Regions from separate parts of the Homo sapiens genome. Here region 1 is linked to region 2. Evidence: fine-mapped QTL for protein levels in blood plasma. A gene starts in region 2. The other region holds a variant in brackets. All regions are shown on one strand. Distances are between the middles of the regions.

Region 1 (8,332 bases), 91 kb after region 2:
GGAAAAGTCCAGGTTAAGTTCAACGAGGGCCAGCCATCTCCCTTGGTACTCCAGGACATTTAAATACTTTTTTTTTTTTTTGCTTTAAAACAGTTGCTTTAACATATGCACTCATAGCTGAGTAGAGTCCAGCCAAAACGACATGTCTCAGAAGTCAAGATTATGTGGAGTTTGCATTAGAAGCCTTCTTAAGAACATAAAATCCTCCGTTTTCATGCTTCAGAAGTAGAGAAGTACAGGTTTTTGTCTTTGAATAGTGCCGGGTTCTCACCTCACTAATATATTTCTCTTGGTTTTCCAAATATCTTCTTGTCCACAGTAACAGTGTCCTTATTTTCCACTAGTAAATCTTACAGGGTCTCAGTAGTGACTCTCACTGAAATAAGGGCAGAAAACACCAGTGCCGTGGTGTGGAACTGGAGGGCTAGGGTGGAGGGCCAAGGAAGCTGGAGAAGCCAATCAGACGGGGAGTGGAGTGTGCTGCTGTGAGGCCACTCATGGGCTGGGTGTCCGTGGCTCTGGGCAGACCTCTCGTGACTGGTTCAGCAGAGCCCAGGGGACTGGGAATTGAACAGCTAAACACAGATGGTCAGGACTGAAGTGCACTTGAAACAAATAAAATAGAGCAAATAGGGTCCATTGGCCAACGCTCTGGGAAGGAAGGAAGAATAGGGAGATCATTTGACGCCGGCCTCACGCTAACAGGGAAGCCACCAGTAAATGAGGAATAAATTTTGATGGTTAAATTACCTTGCCTTGTCAGTTCTCTCCAGGACCTTCCTTGACAGCCAGGCATTTTCCTTCAGTTATTGGCATATTTGAGAGAAAGAAGGTTGTTTTTGTAAATTGTCTTCATTTTATTCTGACTTCCTGGAGTCTTCAAAGGCTCTCGTGGGGACCACTGGCTTTCTGGGCCCTGAGAGCGTCTGCAACTAGGAGGTGTTGTAACTGTGGAGCCACCAGCCACCAGCCTGGAATTTGGGTGACAGCAGCAACCAGGAAATGTTTTAGACCAATTCTGAGCCTCAGTCCTGTGCACCTTTGAGTCTGGTCCATCGTGGGTGATCCAAGCTATGATTATCCACTGAAGACTTAGGTTTTCCTTGTCCTTTTTGGTATCTATCTGAAGCACAGATGCTCACCACCTCCGCAGCTGTGAGCAGCCTGCCTCGCTGGGGACAAAGGAGATGGAGAAGCATCTCTTTGTAGGGGAGAGCTGGATAATTCCAGCCTGTTAGCTACTCACAGGAACATGCAGAATTATTGGCTCCAGGGAGTTTTGGAGAAAGAAGGTTTACGTTTTCAAACTTACAGATAACAGTTGACATCAATGCTTCTCTTTCCCAGAACAATCTGGAGTTTGCCAGAAAACTCTGTAAACAGGAGTCGTGCTGTGTGTGAACTGTAAACTCTTCTCTCCAGGCGTCGAGGGGACCTTTGCTTTACTTTGCAGCTGGGCTACATCAGACGTGTGCATTGGAAACATAAACTTCCTTAACTGGGAAAAGAATGCTTCTCTGTCTTCAAAATAGTTCTGCTATGTGACATTTTTGCCATCATGAATTTTACATCAGTGCTAGCTCTTTGTTTTACGTGTTTCATTTGGCAGGTCACAAAGGCTCTTGGCTACCACACATACGTGCATACACACACACACACACACACACACACACTCATAAAGGATTTTCTTTTCTGCTTTACCTTTAATTTTCAGTCTACTTGGCTTGTAATGAAAGGTAGAGCCTTATTTTTGAACTATATCCCAACAGAATCGAATTTCCATTTTGCCAAGAATTATAAAACCCTGAGGTTTTAAAATTCAGTTTCTTTTCTGGGGATTTAACATGGAAGGACTTGGAGGGCAAATGGCCCAGTGATTGGAAAGGGGAAAAACAATTCATTTCATTTAAAATTATTCAATAACCATTGCCAGCATTTGGGATTCTGAGTGCTGTTTATGAAGCCCTTTCATTGATATAATTTCATCTATCTCTCACAAGGCTGTAAGCAATTCCTATGTCCATATGGCAGTGAGGAAATGGAGATTTGAGCAGGTTAAGGGAGTTTTCACCTGGAAGCTCTTCTTTTTTTTCCTTCTGCCACAGTAGGGTCATCAGACTGTCAGCCCCAGCACTGGGAGCCGAGTAACACGCATGTTCTCATTAATATCCTTTTCTCATGTTTTTATTAAAGATATATGCAAGTTGCCGAAAGACGAAGGAACTTGCAGGGATTTCATATTAAAATGGTACTATGATCCAAACACCAAAAGCTGTGCAAGATTCTGGTATGGAGGTTGTGGTGGAAACGAAAACAAATTTGGATCACAGAAAGAATGTGAAAAGGTTTGCGCTCCTGGTAAGTGATTCTTCCTTGTGTTTATGGCTTCTGCAAATAAGAGATTCAGGTCAATAAGTCACCTTGAAAAATATTAGAAGTGCAATGATTATGATACATGTGAAAAAGAAGATAAAGTGTATCCTCAGATAAGGAAGACGTTCAAATACAACCCATGAAATGTCTTTTTGAATTCCTATTTTGGGTTTCTAAAAACATATTGTCCCTTGTCATTCTTCAGAAATGTTACTAAGTTGCTGTTATTTGTAAAATATTGCACCAAAAATGATTCCTGGGAAGATAATATAATGAACAACTACAGATAACGCCAAAGATAAACAACCCCCACAAATTTATCTTTTAAATAGTTTTGCTTCCTATAAATAACAATGTTGTCACTGGGGCCATCCAGTATCTCCATTATATTGTGCAGTTCAACTGGTAATAAAATAAACACTTTGAACAGAGCCTGGGGTCAGTGCCAGAATGGGGAGAGTTCAGTTCGTATAAAGGCCTGGTAGATGGTGCAGGGCAAAAGAATGGGATCAGATTTCCCAGACATCCCTGGGCCCCGGGGCCCCAGGCCAAGAACGTCACAGAGGGCCTTTGATGGTACTGAGTAGAAAAGTGGGACAGGTGATGGAAACCAGAGGCTGCGGGACTGTGTCATGATAATGACAGTGCCCTTTTGGGTCAGTAATGTGGCTTTTCCTCTCTTCTCTCGGCTCCTCACCTCACCCCACCCACCCCCTCTCTCGACGCTCAGTGCTCGCCAAACCCGGAGTCATCAGTGTGATGGGAACCTAAGCGTGGGTGGCCAACATCATATACCTCTTGAAGAAGAAGGAGTCAGCCATCGCCAACTTGTCTCTGTAGAAGCTCCGGGTGTAGATTCCCTTGCACTGTATCATTTCATGCTTTGATTTACACTCGAACTCGGGAGGGAACATCCTGCTGCATGACCTATCAGTATGGTGCTAATGTGTCTGTGGACCCTCGCTCTCTGTCTCCAGGCAGTTCTCTCGAATACTTTGAATGTTGTGTAACAGTTAGCCACTGCTGGTGTTTATGTGAACATTCCTATCAATCCAAATTCCCTCTGGAGTTTCATGTTATGCCTGTTGCAGGCAAATGTAAAGTCTAGAAAATAATGCAAATGTCACGGCTACTCTATATACTTTTGCTTGGTTCATTTTTTTTCCCTTTTAGTTAAGCATGACTTTAGATGGGAAGCCTGTGTATCGTGGAGAAACAAGAGACCAACTTTTTCATTCCCTGCCCCCAATTTCCCAGACTAGATTTCAAGCTAATTTTCTTTTTCTGAAGCCTCTAACAAATGATCTAGTTCAGAAGGAAGCAAAATCCCTTAATCTATGTGCACCGTTGGGACCAATGCCTTAATTAAAGAATTTAAAAAAGTTGTAATAGAGAATATTTTTGGCATTCCTCTAATGTTGTGTGTTTTTTTTTT[G/T]TGTGTGCTGGAGGGAGGGGATTTAATTTTAATTTTAAAATGTTTAGGAAATTTATACAAAGAAACTTTTTAATAAAGTATATTGAAAGTTTCCTGGGTGTGACGTTCTTGGCAGTCTTGTTTCCATAGCAGCGATTGTCAGAATCACCCCTAGGCTGGGGAAACTGGGTTTGGTTCTGGCCCCATGGAGCTGTGCAACAGCCTTTCGTTTCCAGTGGAGGAGGCAAAAGAGCTTTATCAGCCAGTGTGCAAAGAGACCGGCTGGAGACAAGCATCCCCCGCTTTGTGGATTCAGCCCCACATGCTCCAGTGCTCCATGGCCGAGCGGAAGGTGTTCCTGCTGTTGGGTCCCGGCAGTGTTTCTGATTTTCAGAGTCAGGCTGGCTTCTATCTTTTCCTCTGACTCTTGGTTGGCCCTCAGAGCCTCAGCCTCCTCCTGTCTTCCTCTCCACAGTGATCCTTTCCCAGGGGGTTGATTTGCTTCCTCTCACAATGGCTGAGAGATTCAGTGTTGCCCCACGACCCCCAACCCCTTTTCTGGAGTCTCAAAGCACAAGGTCTTTCATTTTTTTGTTTTTCTTAAAGACTGTTTTTTTCTCTCTTCAGAAATAATACAAGAAACCAACAAATACATATTCAGGTGGCACTTGAGTTCCACTTACAAAGGAAACAACTTATTGGATAAAATACATATGTCCTGACAAGTGCTGAGGGTAGAATTACAGGAATCTTGGGTGTCAGCAGAAATGTTTTATGTAAAATCGGGATGAATTTGCCAGTTGGTCTATTGGGAAAGGAGAGAGGAGTGTGGCCCTCTTCAGAAGCGCCACTTAGTCCCCACAAGGTCGCCATGACCTCCTCCCCAGTCCTCTTCTATCTCGGCAGCTACCATGGGGTGCTCAGGTCAGTGTGCTCTGAGCTGTGACCCTTGGTGACCAACCCTGGGATCTGCCAGGCACCCAACACCAGCCTCTTGCAGGAACTTGCGGAGCAGAGAGCTGTGGGCCCAGCTCCCATAGCGGTGGGCTGAGTGCTCCACTTCCCAAGGGATCCCTGCCCCCGCCACCCCCATTGACTTGATCTGCTATGGACCTAAAATGAGCATCACAATCTGGTTTTACTTTTTGGGTTCCTCCGGAAGCAGCCCTTAGGACTAAGGATATGGGTGTGAGTAGTTTATTTGGGAGGTGAAGGAAGTCACTGAGTGGCTGAGAAGTGGGGAGTGAGACAAGCAAAGGGAGAGCACTGTTAAGAGGTGTATAGTCAGCGTCCACTGTGGGTGCCCAGAGCCCAATCCCTCGGGGAAACCCTGGGAGGTGCACCTGTGGCACTGCACCTCGTAGGCCAGCAGAGGGCTGAAGGAGTTTGGGTAGTCATACACCTGTTTCCACGGGTCACTGAGGCATTCATGCTCTGGTCCTCTTGGCTTGCAGGCACACTGGCAAAGGGGCCTTCTGTAGTGTAAGAAAATGTTCTTGGCAAAGACCTGCAGATACTCCCATGTGGAACTTGGGGGAGTAGTCAGGCCCAAGGTACAGGAGTAGGACACCAATATTTGTAACATACCTAGATGGTCTGCTCAAGGTGTGTTACAATAGACTGGGGCAGGGCCCATCACTAGGAGACTCACTTCCAAGGGCTCCAGAACCCTCTCTCCCTTTCCACCTCCTGTTGCCAGCATGCCCATCCCTGCCATTCTTGGTTCACTCTATCTATGCATTGCTTCTCTGTGTGTGTCCCTTGGCTGCTCAAGGTTGCTGGGACAATCACACCCACCATCTCACCTGACTCAGGAGAAGCAGGAAGTGATGTAAGTCCAGGTGAGTGGCTGGTTAAGCTGTGTGTGCTGCTAACTTAGGGTAAGGCAAGGTGCTCAGGTGGTGGATGGGCAGTTTCTCCCATTTATTCCCACAGAGCAAATAAAACAAAATCCTTTGTTACATTGTCTGTCCTAACTTAGGGTTCAGCAAAACATGATCTGAGCTGCAGGATTCCTGACCCCTTGACAGCTCGTGGATTTCTCTTCCCAAGACATTCTTCTGCCAGACTATGCCAAGGACTCTGTGTCCTTTCTTGAACCCTGACATGTCCCTGACCCTCATATCCACTCAGCTCTCTCTGGGGAAGCCTCCAGCCTGGCCCGTGGAAGGTGGCCTGCCAATAAAGAAAACCTGTTTTGGATTTTGTGACTAAGAAATAAACTTCTATTGAAGTAAGAGACTGAGGTCTTGGGCTGTTCTAGCAGCTGGTGTGACCGTAACGAACACAGCGCACCTTTATCCAGAAGCCTTTGTGGGTCAGGTGCTGTACTAGGTGTTTCACACACATCTTAGGTGGTGCCGTTCAGTAGCGGTCATTGTTCCAGTTTTAAAGATGATGAAACAGAGGGTCAGAGTGGTCCTTTTCACCCAGCTATGTTCTAATGGAGGATCTGGGCAAGTTATGGTGACCCAGAAGCCCTCTCAGAGTTCCAAGGTTGGCTCCTGTGGGACGCTCACTGCCATTCTCTAGATGTTTCTGGCTCTTTCTCTGGAAGTCAGATCTAAGCCATGTGTCTTTTCCCAGAACAAAGCATGCCCTCCACATGACCCTCCCCAAGACCTTCCGTCACTCTTTCTCAGACAGCAAGTCTCTATCCTTCTCCTTCCTTTCATTGTAGTCTTTTCCATCTCTTCTCATTATCCTGAGCTGCTCTGGCTTAGGAAAGAACTTGGAGAAGCTGGGGGCTCTGGCACGCATTGAGGGCTTGCGCAGAAGGTGGCCTGGGCTGAGTATGGCCTGCCTGGGCTCCAAGGCCGAGTCACGAGGACGTCTATTTGTGCTCAACTGTGAGCACATCTCAATCCTTTCAACAGCAGCTTTGCTGGATTTTTAAATACAAGTGCTTTATACTTTCATTCCCTCAACGATTTTCTGCATAATTAAAAAGAAATCACAGCACTTATGAATGGGTGCCAGGCTTTTTGTAGAAAGCCAATGTTTTGAACCCTCAAGAACCATTTTAAATTTCTTTCCCCATGGTGGTTCATTTTTAGGAGATGGTTCGTATTTTCCTGCCAAATTTCCATTGTTGTCAGATTTCCAGCTGGACCTAGCTGCTCTTCATGAGCCAGGCTCTCAGGGTTCCACCTATCTGGGTGTGGCTTCCGGAGAAGTTGGGGACTGCTGACACTGCCAGGCCAGGGGGCCCAGTCCAGAGGCTGCCCTCTGCCATACCCCTCCTCGGTTTAGTTTGGGTCTGAGCTTTGCCGCTGCCTGTGCCTCCCCTTCCCTGGGAGATGAATACTGATGGTGAGCTGCTGTAAGAGCCATGGGATTCCTGGGGTCTTCCTGCTTTCTTGGAATCATGCTCTCCAGCTTTGGGCCACCCCTCAGCATTCCTGAGATCCCATGCAGAGCCAGTTCAGAAATCCTTTTCCGTGGTATTCCCTAGTCTTCCACCCAACTTTATGGTGGGTATAAATCTGCTAAAGACCAAAACACCAAAGAAGTAGTATTTTGGAATCTAGTAGTCAAAGCTTGAAGGCATTTGGTCATGAGTGATGGGAAAAGGCCAGTGATTCAAGGGCCTCTGTGCATGATGGTGACACCACCCAAGTATCGCTCAACCTGGAAAACTGATATTGTTTTCCTGCCTATGTCAGATGTCTCTGTGAAAACCATGCTGCTGTTGCAAAAAGTCATCTAAGAGAAGGCATTTGGGCATCTGCAAAGGGAGCTAGCTATGCATGTTTGATTTCAAGAGACTAGTAAATTCCCAGCATTTACATGAATTTTATAAGAGATGTTAGAAACAGAAATAGCACAATAAAAAGAAATTGTCAGAACTTGTATATCTGGGAAAGAATATTTGTTTTGAAAGACCCCATTTAAAACAGTTACATTTGATAGGAGTTGTAGTTGAAGAAGCTGACTGGTCATTCATAAACCAGTCTTATGTTGAGTTCCCCGAAAGCAGATCCTGACCAAGTTTTGGCTGCAGTCATTTGTTTCGGAAGGTGTGTGGGAAGCACAAATGAGGCCACTGAGAAGCAAGACAAAGAAGTTGGCAAGTCAAGGGATGGTGCATTAACTAAAAGCATGTTACCCTTGAGAGCAACTGGGGCTCAGTCTCCCTGGAAACCCACTGAGAAAGTGGGGAGAATGCTACGAGGAACAGAAAGCTGGACGTTTATGGACTGACCCTCATCTCTCTTTGGTTGGAGGTTGTAGTAGTCACCATTATCTAGAGGGACAGGACTAATAGGATAGACATATATATGAAAGGGAGTTTATTAAGGAGTATTGACTTACACGATCACAAGATGAAGTCCCACAATAGGCCGTCTGCAAGCTGAGGAGCAAGGAAGCCAGTCTGAGTCCCAAAACCTCAAAAGTGGGGAAGCTGGCAGTGCAGTCTTCAGTGTGTGACCGAAGGCCCGAGAGCCCCTGGCAAACCATTGGTGTAAGTCCAAGAGTCCAAAAGCCGACGAACTTGGAGTCTGATGTATCAGGGCAGGAAGCATCCAGCACGGGAGAAAGACG
Region 2 (8,332 bases):
CAGCTGCCCTCTGGCTGTGGGGTCAGTGGAAGCCTCAAGTCCTCTTCCTTGATTGGGCTTCTAATCCTTCTTGTCTTGAAACAGGCCTAGTTGCCTCAGTGGAGCATTTTACTTTAAGCTGATTTTGGAATGTCACATACCTCCTCTTCAATAAGAGGAAACTCCAGCCTCACTGCAACAAGCAAATCTATTAACATGATTGCAGATCCATCACTGGGAGCTGGTTGGGAGGGTGAGAAGAGTGGACTTGAGCTGGCCCTCCAGGAATATCTCCCAGGATATCCCAGCATAAACCCTCTGGTCTATTCTGGGAGGCAGGGAAACAGGAGCCTGCCCCGGAGAGACTGAACTTAGGAACACACTGCACAGCCGCAATCCAGGGTTTACAGGACAAAGATCGAGGCACCCTTCAGCAGCTGTCTGGATGCTGGGATGCGGGGTGTGGCAGATGCTGCTGCTGTGGCTGCGACTTCCCTTTGAGTCCTGGAGACTGTGATGGAACTCGGATGCTTAGTCTGTTACACAGTCTGCCACTGCCTCTTAACATTCAGGGAGCTGGAGTCTTCATATTGGCTTCTCTATGACTGTGTGTATGTTCAAGTTCCTTCTAGCAGAGCCTGAGACAGGGTGTTGTGCAAGCGATTACTGAGGGAGAGCTCCCAGGGGAAACCTAGAAGGAAGGCAGGAAGAAGGATGAGGGCAGGAGAAGAAGCCAGGCAAGGAGTGGGTTCTGAGAAGTCAGGCTGGTCCCATGGCAGGTGTTCTGCAGTGAGAATCCTCTTGCCAAGTTTTTCTGGCCCAGAGGCAATGGACTGGAGTGTCACATCCCACATCAGACATCACTGGCTGTGGGCCACCCCAAGGGAGATGGGCTATAACCCTGTACTAGTTATCAACTGCTGTGTAACAAATTGTCACAAAACTAGCAATTTACGACAACATGCATTTAGTATCTTGGGTCAGGAGTTCAGGCTTGGCTTCACTGGGTCCTCTGCTGGGGTCTCAGAGGCTGAAACCTCCGTTTGGGAGACTACATTTCTTTCTGAAACACGGAGTCTTTTCAAAGCTCACGTAGATGTTGGCAGAAGTCAGGCCCTTGTGGTTGTCGAGTTGGGGTTCCTGCTTCCTTGCTTGTTAGGAGCTGCTCTCAGCTCCCAGAGGCCCCCACATTTCCTTGCCATTGGCCCTCACAGGATGGCGGCTCACTTTGTCAAGGCCAGTGTCTTAGTCCATTTGGATGGTTGTAACAAAATGTCTTAAACTTGGTGGCTTAAACAACAAAAATTGATTTCTCATGTTTGGGAGTTTGAGAAGCCCAAGATCAAAGTGCCCGCAGATTCGGTGTCTGGAGAGGTCCTGCTTCCTAACTCGTGCACTGCACCTTCCCTCTGTATCCTCACATGGTGGGAGGATGGAGCAGTCTCTCCATATCCTCTTTTATAAGGCACTGATCCCATTCATCAAGGCTTCTCCTCTACGACCCAATAACCTCCCAAAGGCCCCATCTCCCAATACCATCACTTTGGGGGTTAGAATTTCAACATATGGATTTTTGGGGGACATGACATCCAGACCCCAGCAGCCAGCAAGATAATCTCTCCCTGCCGTTTCCTAAGACAGAGTCTTCTGTGATCCCTGGGTGACTTCCCACGACCCAACTGTAACCTAATCCAGGAAGGGACACCATTCATTTTTGTCGTGTTCAAAGGCTGGAATCAGGGCTCAGCTTCCATTTGCACGCAAGGGGGGTGGATTACGCAAGGGCTTGACTCCTGGGGGTCATCTTGGAATTCCACCCACCTCACACACCCCAATGTGTCCAGAAGAGACAGATCCCAGCATCCACGAACAGTCCTCCAGGAAAGGGCGTGGGTGTGAACCACTAACATTTGACTCTCATCTGAGGGGAGTCTTGCAGAGGCACCCATGGGACCTTCCACACTGTCCTTGCCCGCAGGAGAAAGGGCAGCCAAAGTCTCAGAAAATCGCCATCCCTCAGGCCACCTTCCAATCCCATAGCCGTGTATCTGGATGGGGAGGCCCCATCCCCATCAGGGCCACAGCTACAAGGGAGCTTGGAAAATGGAGTTCTGAACTTGCTAACTTGTGTAGTTAAGGACAAGATAAGGGAAGAAAATGGGAAGAGGTGCCAAGAGCCAGTTCAAGCCTGCAGTGAAGGGGAAACAGAATTGAGATATTCCGTGACTTATGAGGTGAACTGAGAGATTCAGTGACTTATGAGGTCCCACCGATGGCCGGGCCTAGATCCAGGACTCAGGACGTTTAGGGCAGCTCAAACTTTTGAGGTTGTTTTCCTCCTGGGATCAGGTAGCAGAGAGGAACTGGAAATGTAAGTGGGAATCCACATAGTGGTGATTAAGGAAGAAAGCTGCCATAGAACCCAAATTCTCTCTTGTTAGCACAAGGGAGGTTTACCATGAGTTTCTGGAAGTTTCTAGAGCCATGGGCAGTGCTGAAGAGGATCTGGATCATCAATGAGTAGGTGCAGCTAAATATTAAAGATTATGGTTTCCTACTGAATGGGAGCTTTTATTTCTTTAAATCATGTTCTAAATGATTTCTTGCCCTTGCTGTTTAAATATAGCCATCCATTGGTATCCATGGGGGACTGATTCCAGGAACCTCCATGGATACCCAAATCCACAGAGGCCCCAATCCCTGAAGGAAGGTGGTGTAGTATTTGCACATAACCTATGCACATCCTTCTGTGTACTTCAAGCCATCTCTAGATTACTTATAATACCTAATACAGTGTAAATGCCATGTAAACAGTTGTTATACTGTGTCATTTAGAGAATGATGACAAGGAAAAACATCTGTACATGTTCAGTATATATGCAATCATCTACTTTAAAAAGCATTTTTGAACCACAGTTGGTTAAATCCATGGATGCAGAACCCATGGATACGAGGTCGACTGTAATAGAAACTTTCAATACCAAGGAATGCATCTGCCTAGCGATTTTGCGAAAAAGAGTGTATTTGTATTTGAAAGAAACCGTGGAGTGGAAACACCTAAAACGTGCTTGTTCAGTTAACCTCAGTTTGCTGAGCTGCTTGGAGCATGGGGTTGTAATCAAAGATTGTCTTCTTCGCAGCAGACAATGTTCTGGGAGAAATAGTCCTCCTTAGTGCTGAAGTTGCAGACTCTAACCAAGGGGGTGGCAGCAAGTATCCCCGGTCTCTGTAGGGGCTTGAGTCAACGCCTGCACTGTGCAGAGAGGATGAGGGCAGAGAATTGGATGCCGCTGGAGGGGCGTGTTGTCCTTCTACATGTCATGCAGGCAGCGCGGTTCTATACTCGGAGCCTCTGCTCAGCGTGTCTTCACCTAAGAACCCCATAATTCAGGTTCCATCCTTGTTCCCTACTCCAGTGCTCTGCAAGTGAGCCCTTTGGTTTAGAGATGGGTTGGGCTTCTTTATGGGAGAGGAAGGGAGCCCTGGAGCTGCAGAGGGGAGCAGGCATTCTCTCTGGGGTGCTGTCTCCTTTCTTCCCTAAATTGGAGGGAGATAATCCATGGAAAGGAGTTAATGATTTCTTTGCTCTTCAAACTTGGTTTGGAAGGATCTCTCAGTCAAAAAGAACCTTTCGGATGTCTCTTGATATTTCACATTAATGGACTTTTCATAAGGACCACATGATGGGAGAGCAGTGAGAAGTTTGGGGATGGCCAAAGCTGGGTTGTCATTTGAGCTCTGTTACTAACCCAGACTGGACAATGACGATGTCACTTACTCTCTCGGAACTTCTTTTCTTTTCTTCTTTTCTTTTCTTTTTTTCTTTTTTCTCTTCTCTTCTCTTCTCTTCTCTTCTCTTCTCTTCTTTTCTTTTCATTTCTTTTCTTTCTTTCCTTTTTCTCTTTTTTGGAGTCTCACTCTGTTGCCCAGGCTAGAGTGCAGTGGCGCCATCTCGGCTCACTGCAACCTCTGCCTCCTGGGTTCAAGCAATTGTCCTGCCTCAGCCTCCCAAATAGCTGGGACTACAAGCGCCTGCCACCATGCCTGGCTAATTTTTATATTTTTAGTAGAGATTTAGTAGGGGTTTCACCATGTTGGCCAGGCTGGTCTCCAACTCCTGACCTTGTGATCTGCCTGCCTTAGCCTCCCGAAGTGCTGAGATTACAGGCATAAGCCACCGTGCCCAGCCTGTTTCTTTCATCTGTAAAATGGGACCACAATTTCACCTAATAAAAGAAGACATCTTTCTATTTAAAAGGGCTTAGGGTGTTGATGTTTGTGATAAAGGAGAGAATGTATATTGAAGTGTTTTGAAATGTGCAAAGCTTTCTAGAAACAGAAGTTCTTACTCAAGTATTTTCCCGAAGCTTTGGCAAGATAACCATTTTTATTACCCCGTCTGTGCCTAGAATGGGCCTATAAGCGCCACAATCAGAATCATTAGATATAGAAATTAAGAGAAATGTAGCCTCCTTTTTTTTGCCGGTGAACAGAGCTTTGGTTAACAGAAAACCAAGGCGATTTTAATTGCTGGTTTTTCTATTTGAAGGGGGAAGTTATTAGTAGAAGTCTCAATTCAGAAACTTCAAGAAGAAATGGGAGGGTGTGGTGAGGGTAAGCGGGGGACTGCATTTCCTGTTTTCCTTTCAGATGGTGTTGGAAAACATTGCAGGAAAACCATGGATACCCACGAAGAAATTCCAAAATTTATTCTTTTTGACGCCAAGGGCCCAGCCCAAAAGGTGACGAGTAGGAGTGGTCAATTTTTTTTTTTAAGAGTTGGGGCTTGCAGGAGTCCAGCTAAACGCTTGTAGGGTGAAGACAGAATTCAGAGGGTGACATCAGCCTGAGCGGGGGCCAGAAGAAACAGAGTGGAGGAGTCTGGTTTCATTTACAGTTTTGGGTCAGTTCTGCAGTGAGGAGGGGGAGAGGAGGGGTCCGGGAGGGAGGAGGAGGAGGAGGAGGAGCTGGAGGAAGCCCTGACTGGTATCCCTGGCCCCAGTCCAGTTTGGAGCTCAGTCTTCCACCAAAGGCCGTTCAGTTCTCCTGGGCTCCAGCCTCCTGCAAGGACTGCAAGAGTTTTCCTCCGCAGCTCTGAGTCTCCACTTTTTTGGTGGAGAAAGGCTGCAAAAAGAAAAAGAGACGCAGTGAGTGGGAAAAGTATGCATCCTATTCAAACCTAATTGAATCGAGGAGCCCAGGGACACACGCCTTCAGGTTTGCTCAGGGGTAAGTGTGATTTCTCTTCTGTTTTTCCAGGTTTGGGGCTAGAAGGAAATGCTCTTAACCTGAAGTGATCCTTTCTAGGTAGCGTTAGTGGCTCTTACGTTCATGCTGATCGCCAGTTTTCTGTACATGTTTTAGGTCTCTGGAAGATTCCGCTGATTTTTCTTTCTCACTTTATGGCAATGGGATTTCCTTAAATTGGTTAAGGTCATGATTGCCTAAGAGTGTGAGCACTTTTCCACCGCGTGTCTGTGGCTGCTACACGCGCCCTGTGCATTCCGGGCGGCAGTGTGTTTCGGCCCATGATTTATTTAAGTTACTGCCGCCTTCTAAAACCCATTCGGGATCCGCTTTGTTTGCAGAAGCGTCTTTGCTGAGGACTAGCATAGCTCCCTGCCGGGCGGCTCCGCTGGGAGATGTTCTCTGAGCTCTCTGGGTGGTGACACTAGGTCAGGGTGCAACAACCTGCATGGGTTTTCTGCCCAGGGCCGCCCATGGGAAGGTCCTGGTGGAGCACATTTGCTGCTTTCACAAGATTGGAGTAACTCTGGTGCTCAGGATCAGGGCCAAGTAAAGGGTCGCTCAGTCATTGCCGTCAAGCTTTCGTCTTTCCAGGAACCTGAAGTCTCTATTGGAGACTTTGTCCCTTGGGGTTGCTTAAAGGAGTTGCAGGGGTCAGAGGAGAAGAAGGAATTGGGCATTTGGGCAGCATGCTGAGTGTCTAAGGCAGGGCCCCTGGGGCTGCAGGGCCAGCCCATGCTGCACAGAGGTGAGGCCAGTGCCGAGCTGGGAGGCCCCGAGGGCTGTTCTCTGGCCCGGAGGATGCAGGGTGGGGCTCGGGCCCTCTCTTGCTGAGGATGGACACGTTCGCTGACAGTGGCCAGCCTGTTTGGGGAACCTGTTTCAAGGGGCCTACTATGTTGGATAATGAACGGGTATTGAAGTATGGGTGGGGTCACTGGGAGGGACTAGGGAGTGGTTAAAGAAAAATCTGCTTCCACAGGAAGCCCCAGGAGCCAGTTTCGAGGCCGGTGCAGACCCCAGGAGCAAACCCCTCTGAGCACAGGGGAGTCTGCTGTGCTGGATGGGGAGGCAGGGCTGTGGCCCCGGCTGACTGGCTTCTCTCCCCACATACAGCTCACCCCGGCGAGGACCACAGGGTGCTAGAGCTGCAGGGTGCTCAGAGCTCACGGGGATGGTGGATGCTCAACCTGGGATCCCCCAGCTCCCCAGGGTCCCATTCTTAATGCTGTAAAAAACAACCGAAATGGCTTTAAAATCAAAGTTACATTGCTCCTAAGCAAAACTATATTGAAAACTGAGTGGGTGGCCGTTGATGACATTACTGGGACTTCTGAGGTTTTTGTTGGGCTAAAGATAATGGAAGAGATTTTTGGTCAGAAGCCACTGATGCAGTAGTTTCCTGGTTTTCAAAATGAGCAACCAGGGGCTCTGAGATGCGGAATTCCTTGCCCAGGCCAGGGAGCGAGTGCCTGAGATGGCAGTGAAATCCTTCCCCATTGAAGGAGAGCAGACAAGCCAGTGACGGAGGATCCCAAATAACTCACATCTCGTTGGGAAAACTGCTTTGGGCTCACTAAGACTCTACCAATGAACCGAGAAAGAAGGGAGGTGGACCGTGGGGCGGGGGCATCGGTTCCGTGACCGGAATACCGGGGCTGGCCGCCCTGCTCAGGCCACCTCCTGGGGGTGGAGGGCGCTGAAGGAGGGGACCTGTATGCTCTTCTTTCTGAAGTGGGCTTGTAGCTGAGGATGAAAGCCTGGGTGGGGAGGCGTGGCTTTTACAAAGATCAGGATGTAGGAACAGCTGCCTGTCTGGACTTCTTTGTTTAGGGGGTTTCTTGCTACCCAGAGGTTTAGTTCTCTCCTTTCCTCACTCATGGTCGAGAGAAGCCAGGAAGCAGACACTGAGTGGAGCAGAGGGCTTGGGAAGGAATTCCATGTTGGGGTGAAGTGAGGCTGTCCTGGCTTTTCCTATCCAGGCATTGGAGGGTGTGGCTACAGCACCTTTCTGGGAGGTGGCTGGGGAAGCCTCTAGAATGTTAGCCCTTGGCCCCGCTCTTTCCCTGCTTGGCAGGGAGCGTGTTCCACCCCACTATAGTTGTGGCCCACAGGTGAGGGGACATGTGGCAAATGTCCAAACCTGGGGTCTGAATGATATTTTTGATACGAGGTAGGCACCTTTCTGAAAAATTGTCTTTACTTCACACTTCATTTTATTTCTAAAGCATTCAGGACTCAGCAAATTGCACTGACTTTATCATCAGTGCCTTTTGTGATTTCCTATCCTAGAACTTAATACGTCCCCGATGAGAAAGTAGGAAGAAGCTCCTCTCTTCAGTCGATTGTTGATTTATGGTTCCAATGAGGCTGCTCATCCTGACCTTAGTTTCAGGAACGGAACCCATAGACCTGGATGCCTAAAGCCAGCTTGAAACAAGACCGCCTTCTTTGGAAGCTTTGGAAGCTGGCAGTGACTTTTTGCCAGCGAGGTTTCATTTGTTTCCTTGCTCAGAGTGTTCAGACAACTGGATCAAGCGTAGTCTTCACCAGCGGTTGATATCACCTCCCACTTATATGTGAAATTCCATGTTTAGGACTTAAAATTCACCGGCAAGTCGTGAATACTATTGCGTGACACTTCCTTGCAGGCGCAGTAACAGCTTTAGCAAAAATTTTTATTTGAAAGTTCAGTTTTGTCACTGCTCTTTTTGGAAGAAGCTGAAAATCTGCTATCTCTTGGGGGAAGGATTGCAGGCGGTTTCCATCTGACAGGGATGTTGTGTACCAGGCAGCTTTTCCACCCTGACTTACGGGAGCAAACTTTTCATGGTGTCCTGGCTGCAGCAAGCAGGCAGTAAAAAACACATCACTGCTACATAAATAGCTGACGATTTGAGGAGGGACCTGACATTTAAAGAAAATCCTATTAGCTCTAGCTAAGAAAATGAAAGCCGCAAACCCTCCAAATTTTAAAGTGGGGGAGCTTTAAAGTTTCCTACTAATTCAGACAGCCATGAACTAGACAAGAATGGTTATCTTCATTCTCCCGTTTCTAGATACAGCTTCTCTGTTTCCACTGTAAAACTTCAGTGGAATTCAGTGT

Direction of the effects. Positions count from the first base shown, and alleles are read on the strand shown. Strength reflects both the effect of a copy and how common the allele is.
As copies of G replace T in region 1, the plasma level of the protein whose gene starts at base 4,997 in region 2 goes down (moderate association).

The links. PIP is the chance, under the fine-mapping model, that this variant and not a neighbour inherited with it causes the effect. The UK Biobank Pharma Proteomics Project read protein levels with antibody pairs (Olink). The fine-mapping took linkage between variants from a reference panel, not from the people measured, so its PIPs are less certain.
Region 1: its variant is fine-mapped to the plasma level of the COL6A3 protein (UK Biobank, PIP above 0.99).

What each region holds. Positions count from the first base shown.
Region 1 is chr2:237,319,586-237,327,917 of GRCh38, reverse strand. COL6A3 (collagen type VI alpha 3 chain) reads left to right here. Exons shown (of 44, transcript NM_004369.4): 43 at 2,194-2,358; 44 at 3,104-3,900. The coding sequence ends at 3,144. Among named protein-coding and RNA genes, the nearest start is that of COL6A3, 90 kb to the left of the region's middle. RefSeq lists an enhancer at 2,211-3,410. The variant G/T (reference allele first, on the strand shown) is at 3,809.
Region 2 is chr2:237,410,829-237,419,160 of GRCh38, reverse strand. COL6A3 (collagen type VI alpha 3 chain) reads left to right here and starts at 4,997. Exons shown (of 44, transcript NM_004369.4): 1 at 4,997-5,208.